Linked DNA regions of Homo sapiens: region 2 is reported to be linked to region 1. The links are microRNA targets in miRTarBase. Many come from high-throughput screens and were not tested one by one. Region 1 holds a microRNA gene; the other region holds the end of a gene's coding sequence.

Region 1 (4,407 bases):
TTTATCATCTGTCTAGACAACTATAAACAGCTTTTATATTCCTTCATTCTATTTGCGTTTATTCAAGAATACTGTTTCAGACTGCAAGAGTACAGTGATGAACATAACAGACAAAATCCTAGCTCTTGTGGTATTTACATTCCAAATGGGGAAATACAGAACATGATAAGGGATAGAAAGACATGTAAGAATATCCTGTCCTTGAGGAAATTATAATGTTGTTGAAAGCGGGGGTGATAGGCAATCATTGCCTAGTTAGAGATAACAAGAAGACAAATACAAACTTTGTATAAATAGAGATAAACAGACACATATTAGAGCATCTGCTCTGCATAAGTAGCTACACCACCAGGAAGAAAGTCTGCAAAGGTCCAGAAAGTAACGAGGAAGAAGAGTTAGGAGAAGGAGGGATCACTGTGGCCTGGGAGAGTCAGGGAAGACTTAGGATGAGAGAGAGGCATAGTGGAACCAGAATCTTTCTTTGTGTATCTGATGACATACTGGCAAGTCCCAGGGGCTGCTGTGTGATTAGAGCTTCTCACCAGGATAGCTTCCTTCTAAGATGGCCTCCCACTACTTGCTGAGAGAGGAAGACAAAGTGGGTTTTTAAAACTGGCTGATTTGCCTGGTAAATAATGTACTTCTAGTCTATAGAATACTGTATTTTTCAAAGGCAAAAATATTCAAGGCTTAGTCCTTGCTGCTCATATCAACATGCTCTCCCTTGATGAGCTCACTCAGTCTTGTAGCTTTACATAGCATCTAAATGCCAATGACTCACAGGAGGATAATATCTTCAGTTCTGACATCTTGCCATACTCATATATCAACCATTTTATCTACATATCCATTTGGAGATCTAACAGGCACTGTAAGCTTCACATGGACAAAACCAACTGCTTGATTTTCCCTAGAAAAACTCTGCTCCTCTCCCAGTTTCCCTGTTAGTGGCACTACTACCACCAAATTACTCAGACCAAAGCAATGGAGTCTTTCTTGTTTTTTCTCTCACTCCGTATCCAATCAATCAGCTGTCGAACAACAGTTGAAGAACAACAGCTGAACGATCCTGTTTGTTCTATCTTTTGAATGTATCTCTCAAACTCCTAGCCTCAAGTTATCCTCCCACCTGGGCCTCCCAAAGCACCACCACACACAGCCTACTAGAATATATCTCAAACTCAATTACTGCTCAATACTTCTTCCCCTGCACCAGCCCATTATCAACACTCATCTCCTAACTGATCTCTTGCTTCTTCTCATGCTATTCTCACTCTATTCCCTACAAAACTGTCTGGGTAAACTTTTAAAGATAAAAATAAGGTCATTTAAAATCCCTGACTAAAATTCTTTAGAGAAAAAAGGAAATAAAATTAGAGGAAGAAAACATGACCAGAAAAGAAAGAAAGGAAAAAAAAACCTATAGTGGCTTATCACAGTAATTAAATTAAAATTCAAACTTCTACCCTTACAACTTTCCAGCCACACTGACCTTCCTTATGTTTCTTAAACATGCTGAATTTGTTGCTTCCTTGGGAATTTTACATTGCTCTTCCCCAGATCTTTGGCTGAAAATTCCTTATTTTCTACTTCTCAGCTCTCAGGGCATCTTACAGATACCTTTTCTGACTGTCCTACCTAAAGAAGTCCACAGCCAAAACTCACTAACCAAGGCACAGTGGATAATTGATAAATATAACAGACAAGGTCCTAACTCTTGTGGTACTTATTTTCTAAATGCGGGGAATGCAAAACATGGTAAGAGACATCTTGTTACTCTGTTTTATATTCTTCATAATGTTGATCATGCTCTGAAAAAATATCTTATTTATTCATTTTCTTGTTTATGTCTATCTTTGCCATTCAGTATATATTAACAAAAGGAGATAGGACGCATACCTTAGCTCTCTTGCTCTCCACAAAGCCACTAGTCCTTACAGTAGTAGTACCCAGCATACAGTTGGATCTCAAAGCATCACTGAATATGCTTGTACATATTCAAAAATGTAGGAGTAACATCACAGCTATAAAGGAAAAATTCATTATAGTGGAAAAACTGTTAATGAACCCCTTTACCCAAATAATATCCTTCCCAACCTTGACATCTAATCCAACCCCAGAATTTTCTGATATCAAGGGTTAGTGGACCCATTCCTTATATTGGCTACCAGGGAAACGTATGTCAACCTAATTACATCAGAGCAACACACATTTCCTAGAGGGCAACACACTTCTTTGCTTCCTGTAAAAATGTATTCAAAGTTGTGTTAAACAACATTGTTACAGTTACAGATTCTTGTCGTATTTTCTTTGTTTCTTTGACATAAGCAATCATGACCTAGCTAGAACCAAATAGAGATAACGGAAAGACAAACAAAAATTTAGGAAAGTGGACAAACACCAACACAGATTAGGCCATCTGCTCTGCATTATATGATCTAACACAAACAACAATGAACCTGACTTTACATTCTGATGCTGGACAAATTATGTAGTCCTTTGTGGTTCATGTTCTTCTGTCTGTAAAATCTGGACAGTCGTGCTTATTTATTCTCCCCAATTTCCGTGTGAAATAGCTATTATTTTATTTCATAGAATTATGAAATGTTATGCCCTGCAGAAGCTTGAGAATCATCTCATCTGTATCCAAATGTGGAAACTGAGGCCTAATGAGGTTAACTGATTTACCCAGGCTCACAGCTAATTACTGACAAAGCTGGAACTTATAATAGAAATCGGATTTTCTGACCCTTAGGCAAGTGGTATTTCTGCCTCACCATACTGCAATGTTTGCCTTACTGTTTCGTTTTTGATGGAGGAGTATATTATCTTCCAATTAGCATGTAATCCTTGAGGATGTGGTAAGTTGTTCTCCCCACAGTAATTAGTTGGCCATATGTAAATAAATATTTATTAAATAAAGGAATAGTTTGCCATCAGTCAATGGCACCTGCCACCCCTCTATGTTGCAATCATCTACTGACCTTTCAGTCATTTCCTCTCATTCATTCAAAATTTTAGCATACAGGTCCCTGTCTCTCCACTGTGACTTGTTATTCTTGGTGACTTCAACAAGCACTAAATGATACATCTGACACTCTGGTCATTCAGTTTCTTGACTCCTCATCTCTAATGATCTTTTTCTCCACCCCACCTTAGCTACCCACTCCCATGCTCATATACTATTACTCTAAAACCTTGATTTTAGGCATTCCATTATTTGACTACCTCCTTCTATCTTCCTAGTTCACTTATTCTAATACACTCTAACTCTTCTTTAATCCTAGCAGGAACTCTGATCCTTTGGCCTCATCAATTTTTCATGGGGCTTCCTTTCCTCACTGTCCTTTTTATCCAGCCTAGATTCCATGGTCCATGACTGTATTCATACTAATTAAGGGTTTGTCAGTGTACAGCCCCTAAGGCCCTTACCACATTCTTTCTCCATCATACTGTCCTAAAAAAAAACTCCAATCTTGGTTAAAGCCAACTCTCTGCGTGACCTTTCCCTGCACTTAAGCATGAAATGAACCTGGATAAAACAATCGCAATTGTGTTGACTGGTTAAATTTATGATCACACACTATAGGAGTGTCTTCAGCAGTACCCAATAATTCTACATTTCCTTGGCCAACCCTCTCCTTCTCTTCTAGGCAGCTCTATCTCTCTTTAAACCATATACTCTTGATGCCCACTCCTAAATTTTACCTGATACCTTCATCTATTGATTTGCTAGGGAAAAAAATAAAAGTAAGCAAAAAAGAGGTACTAGAATCTTTTCCAATAATCTATCTTCCCCACCCCTCACCCTCTACCATTTAAAATGGATGAGGTGTCCAAGCTCTTACTAAAGGCTAAACTCTGTTGAGAGACAATTCTCTAAGAGTCTCTTAAATTTCCTTGTTCCAGACTATGTAATCAAGGATTGAATGTTTCATAGCCTTGGAAGATAGAGATAGTGTCTCCCTCTGGAACAAACAGCAAGAATGTTTACTGCTCAAAATAATAAAAACAATGTCTCTAGAGCAAAGGGCACACACCTTTATTGCCCAATATAAAAGATTCGGGTTCCCTAAGTTCAGAGTTCCTCACTTGTAATGCAACTCAATGCATATGCGGGTGTCATCTGGCCCTCTTCACATTGATCTGGGGAACTGGGGTGTAGGGAACTGGTGGTGTGAGAAATCAAAGCCTTTGTCTTTGACCCAGGAGTTTCCCATTTGCTGAGCCTCCATGAAATAGTGGCAGGCTAACTTGTTAGCTTACAAATACAGTAAAATCTCAGACCCTTCAGAGTTCCTGACATACTTTGCTTCTGAACTACATCTCATTCCCTCCTGCCTTCTCAAGGACTTTGTGCCTGCAGGTATCTACTCTCTCTTGCATCACCAACTTTTCCCCCTTTTA
Region 2 (4,407 bases), not on the chromosome of region 1:
ACTTAGAAGAAAGTTGCCTTTCTATATATTTTAAAGTGTATTTCTGTGAACATGAGAGAATTTGTATTATTAATTCATAAGAATTTACTCTAAATGGGAACATACTATGAAACTATGAAAGAAATTATCATCTTGAAATAATTTTATGTATCACTATGGGATTCAGATACCTGATACATGAAAATAGTTGAGAGAATTAGCTAATTTAATCTAGATATTTTAATCGACGTGCATATTTAATTCTGTTTATATTTCTTTTCATTCTGAATTGTTTTAATTTTCCAGATTTTTAGATATATCCGTAATACAGTAGGACAAAAGAATTTGGCATCCAAAACATTGGTGGATCAAAGATTTTTGATTTAACTTCCTGAATAAATAACTTAAAGACTCAGTATAATCATGGCCAAAAAAAAGTCATGATATCAGGTTAGTTTGCCATATTTTTTAAAACTTATAATGCAGACTATTCTGTTTTTGTTTTTTATTTGCAGAAAGATTTATTTTTATAACTTGGGAATATATAACCTGATATAATAGAAAATACTGTTTTCCCATTGTGTGTAGTATTTAATGCAGTAAATAATAAATTAATACTGACAGTGAGGCCAAAAAAAATCTAAATGTTGCTTTCAGCATAATACTTTTTAATGCTAATTAAAACAGTCCCCATCATTTGTCTCTGTAGATTATTTTATAAACTGAGAGCTGCCTGAATCTTCTCACATTGACAAAGTAATTTGATTCCAAGTTTAAGACTAGTTTTCAGTTTGATATTTTCATGTTTTGTGTGCTTATGGTTAAATAAATGTTGAAAGATATTTTCAAGTTTACTTAGAAATTTTAAATTGTATTATTGCTGATTCAATTTGCATCATTCTAATTGCTCATCCTCTTTGGCAGTGGATTAATTCACTGTTGGGTTAATATGCATCTCATGAAATGATATCTTTTCATTCCTTTGTATACCTGTATTAGGTCAGTATACGCTTTCCATGAAATATATTTGCATTTCTAATATAGTTTACATTTATTAAGTTATAACGTATGACATTTTTCCCAATATCATTTTTTATACATTTTAATTACTTAATGTTTTAAGAGTTCTCTTCCAGAGTTTTGCTTTTCAATTACGTTTAAAGACTGTAAATAACAAACAGTAAGGCTGGGCGCTGTGGCTTACGCCTGTAATCCCAGCACTTTGGAAGGCCAAGGCACGTGGATCACTTTAGGTCAGGAGTTCAAGAACAGCCTGGCCAACATGGAAAACCCCATCTCTACAAAAAATACAAAAATTAGTTGGATGTGGTGGCCTGTAATCCCAGCTATTTGGGAGGCTGAGGCATGAGAATAGCTTGAAACCAGGAGGTGGAGGCTGTAGTGAGCCAGATAGCACCACTGCACTCCAGCCAGGATGACAGAGCAAGACCCTGTCTCAGAAAAAACAAAAACAAAACACTGTAAATGTATCATGTTTCTCACTGCTTTCTATGTTAATGCTGTGTAAATACTTAAAATGGAATACTGTATAAATATTATTTATATTTTCTCAGATGAAAATATATACTAAAACATTTGGTATTTCTGTTTTCTGTTTCATTAATGTATATCTGATGGAGTACCATTTAGGAATATAACATTATTGGGGCAGAGGTCCCAGCCATTGCCAAAGTTGAATCTTTTACATTTCCCTGAATCTTGAGGATGACTGAAAAGGAAGTCTTTGAAACTGCAGTTTCTGAAGGATCACAGTACAGGAATGCCTTTATAAAAGCTGCAGAGATAAATACATGTACTTATATGGCATGGATATTTAAAACCACTCACTCAGAAGCATATGAAAGAAATTCAACCATCATTCAACATAGAAGAAGTTAATTTTAGTGCAAAAGTTTTTAAGTATTAAATTTCACAATAAAGGATCAATTGGCTTACTTGCTGATAAATTAAAACAGAAAACATTTAAAATCATTCTAAATTTTGTATGATATTTTTATTTTGGCTAGGTGCATAAAAATGTGTTCAGATTTTCATACACTGTCGACTCCTTTGTTCACATTGTCACAATTTACATTTCCTGATCATGTGCATAATTATTCACTAGATTCATTACCCTTTGTCTATTTCTGTAGTACCCAATCACTATACTTTGACTCTTATATCCCTGATTTTACTGATTTTCTAGAAACATTTGATTTCTCTTCATTTCATAATGAAACAAAACCTAGAGAGGTTCTTTATAAGCTGTTGTGTACTTTGGATGCTCCTTAGAAACATACAGGCCCCTAAAATACTTCTGTAGACCAGTGCCTCTGTTATGGGAGATTTGTAAATGCTTCCTTCTCTGGCATTGCTGTCCTAACTGCCTTTTCAGAAGGCTTTGCTGATGACCTACATTGAGGAACATTCAAAATGATCATTAACTCAGCACTTACAAGCATGAAGCATGTGTTTTTTTTGTAAATATTGACAAATATAAGCTGAGGGGAAATAACTGTAAGTCAAGGAGCAGTGAGGAGTGTGGCTTAATGGAAAGTGCTCCAAATTTAGCAAAAGAAGCCCTGGATTCAAATTAGAATTTTGCCCATCACTCATAAGCTTTGGTATCTTGAACTAAGTCATTTGCCATCATTGAGCTTCATTCTACATCTCTGCAATGAAAATAATATCCTTTGCTTACCACTTGTTGTAAGGATTAGTTTCGTGGGTGTGTGTGTGTGAGACAGAGAGAGAGAGATGGGGTCTCACTCTTATCACCCAGGTTGGAATGCAGTGGCACGATTTTGGCCCACTCTAACCTCTGCCTCCTAGGCTCAAGCAGTCCTCCACCTCAGCCTCCCAAGTAGCTGGAACAACAGGTGTGCACCACCATGCCCAGCTAATTTTTTGTATTTTTTTTGTAGAGACAAGGGTTCACCATGTTGCCCAGGCTAGTCTTGAACTCCTGATCGAGAGATTCACCCACCTCGGCCTCCAAAAGTGCTGGGATTACAGGTGTCAGCCACTACACATGGCCAGGATTAGTTTCTTAGAATGTGCTTTTAACATTGAGTAAACTATGAATGCTGGAATTTTTATTTTTAGTTTAAAATATCTGCCCCAAAATATATTTTTTTCTTGCTAATAAATTAATAATATGATATTAAAACTCAGATTACTGATCTCAATAACTGACCAATGAAAATTCTGAGCCTGCCTTCTTCCTCAGCCACCCCCAGCTCTGCCAGGAAGAGGCCCAGATAGAGGTCACCGATAGATGTAAAACATAAAAGAAGACAACACCCCTGTGGGAGACACAGTTTGTGATAGAGGGTGGAGAGAACAGGAAGAGTGGAGTATTGTCTCTGGGAGGGAGGGTTTTTTTCATTTGCTCATTCATTCCAACAATGTTTCTACCTCTTCCCACTCCCCAGCCCCTCAGAAGGGTCTTATAATTTGTAAGAGAAAGAGGTAAATTAACCAGTAATTACAGCAATATGAAACGTGCTGCAGTACCGGGGTGTGATATAAGGAAAGCTCTTAACTGTACTTCTGGGTCATCAGGGCTTTGACCTCAGAGAAGTGGATTTGATCTAAGATTTTAAGATAAACAAAAAAAAACAAGTGCAACCAAAGCATGGAACAGTATGTGCTCAGAGACAAAGCAGCACATGGCAGTTTGGGGCACTACGGGCAGTTTGAATCAGAGTACATGTACTGTTTATATTTTAAAAGTTGTCTGTATAAGATGTTTTGTCATTTTAAGAAACCTTCCCTTCTGGGGAGTGATTGTCCCTCCTGGGGCTCCCCAGTTCTTTTAGACAGCAAAGAACTCAGGTGGGAGCATACCTTTGATATACAAACTATAGACCTGAGCCACACCTCCTCTGTCTGGCCCTGAAACCCTAGGAGGCAATGTTCCTCTTCCTTAAATCATCCCAGGACCAGGTAACGGGCAACTAGGGATAGTCTCTGTAGTTTAGAGCACACTGAAATTATTCCAACGAGCCGATCCCAAACTGTTGACCCCACCCTGCCTTGCCATTTCCTCAGAAACTCCAGTAAGCACCCAGGCTCTGCCCTGGCTCCTGGTGCTCCTGCCTCCTGACTGGTGCTTTCCCCCATGGCTGTGCATGGTGTGCCGTGCCATCTGTTTCTAGGACCTGTGAGTGTAAGAAACTTTCCTGTCTCCCCTTGTCATTCCTCACTCATCACTACATAAAAGGACACAGAACAGTATGTTTGGGGGCTTTGGAGGGCAATGAGGTTGGAAAGGAAAACAGGAGTCACATCATTAAAGGTTTTTATGTTGGGCCACATCTCCATCACGTGCATGGAGTGTTTAACCAAGTTGGAGATAAGTGTTCCTGCTCTCTGTTCCTTGGCTGCATGTTGTGGTTTGCAAGAAAATACATTGCCCCACTGCCC

Evidence for each region. Region 1 holds the annotated microRNA hsa-miR-563 (AGGUUGACAUACGUUUCCC, at 2,171-2,189, opposite strand). A microRNA usually pairs through its seed, bases 2 to 8, with sites in the 3' UTR of a target mRNA and lowers its output. Matches are read on the target gene's strand: a 7mer-m8 pairs with bases 2 to 8, a 7mer-A1 pairs with bases 2 to 7 and ends in A, and an 8mer does both.
Region 2: miRTarBase lists TMEM67 as a target of hsa-miR-563. Seed matches in the 3' UTR shown: 7mer-A1 at 1,849-1,855.

What each region holds. Positions count from the first base shown.
Region 1 is chr3:15,871,604-15,876,010 of GRCh38, reverse strand. It overlaps MIR563 (microRNA 563), which reads right to left and starts at 2,240; the gene lies at 2,162-2,240. LOC107986064 (a long non-coding RNA gene) reads right to left here. Exons shown (of 10, transcript XR_007095831.1): 2 at 1,900-2,024.
Region 2 is chr8:93,816,087-93,820,493 of GRCh38, forward strand. TMEM67 (transmembrane protein 67) reads left to right here. Exons shown (of 28, transcript NM_153704.6): 28 at 286-2,035. The coding sequence ends at 366. Among named protein-coding and RNA genes, the nearest start is that of TMEM67, 63 kb to the left of the region's middle.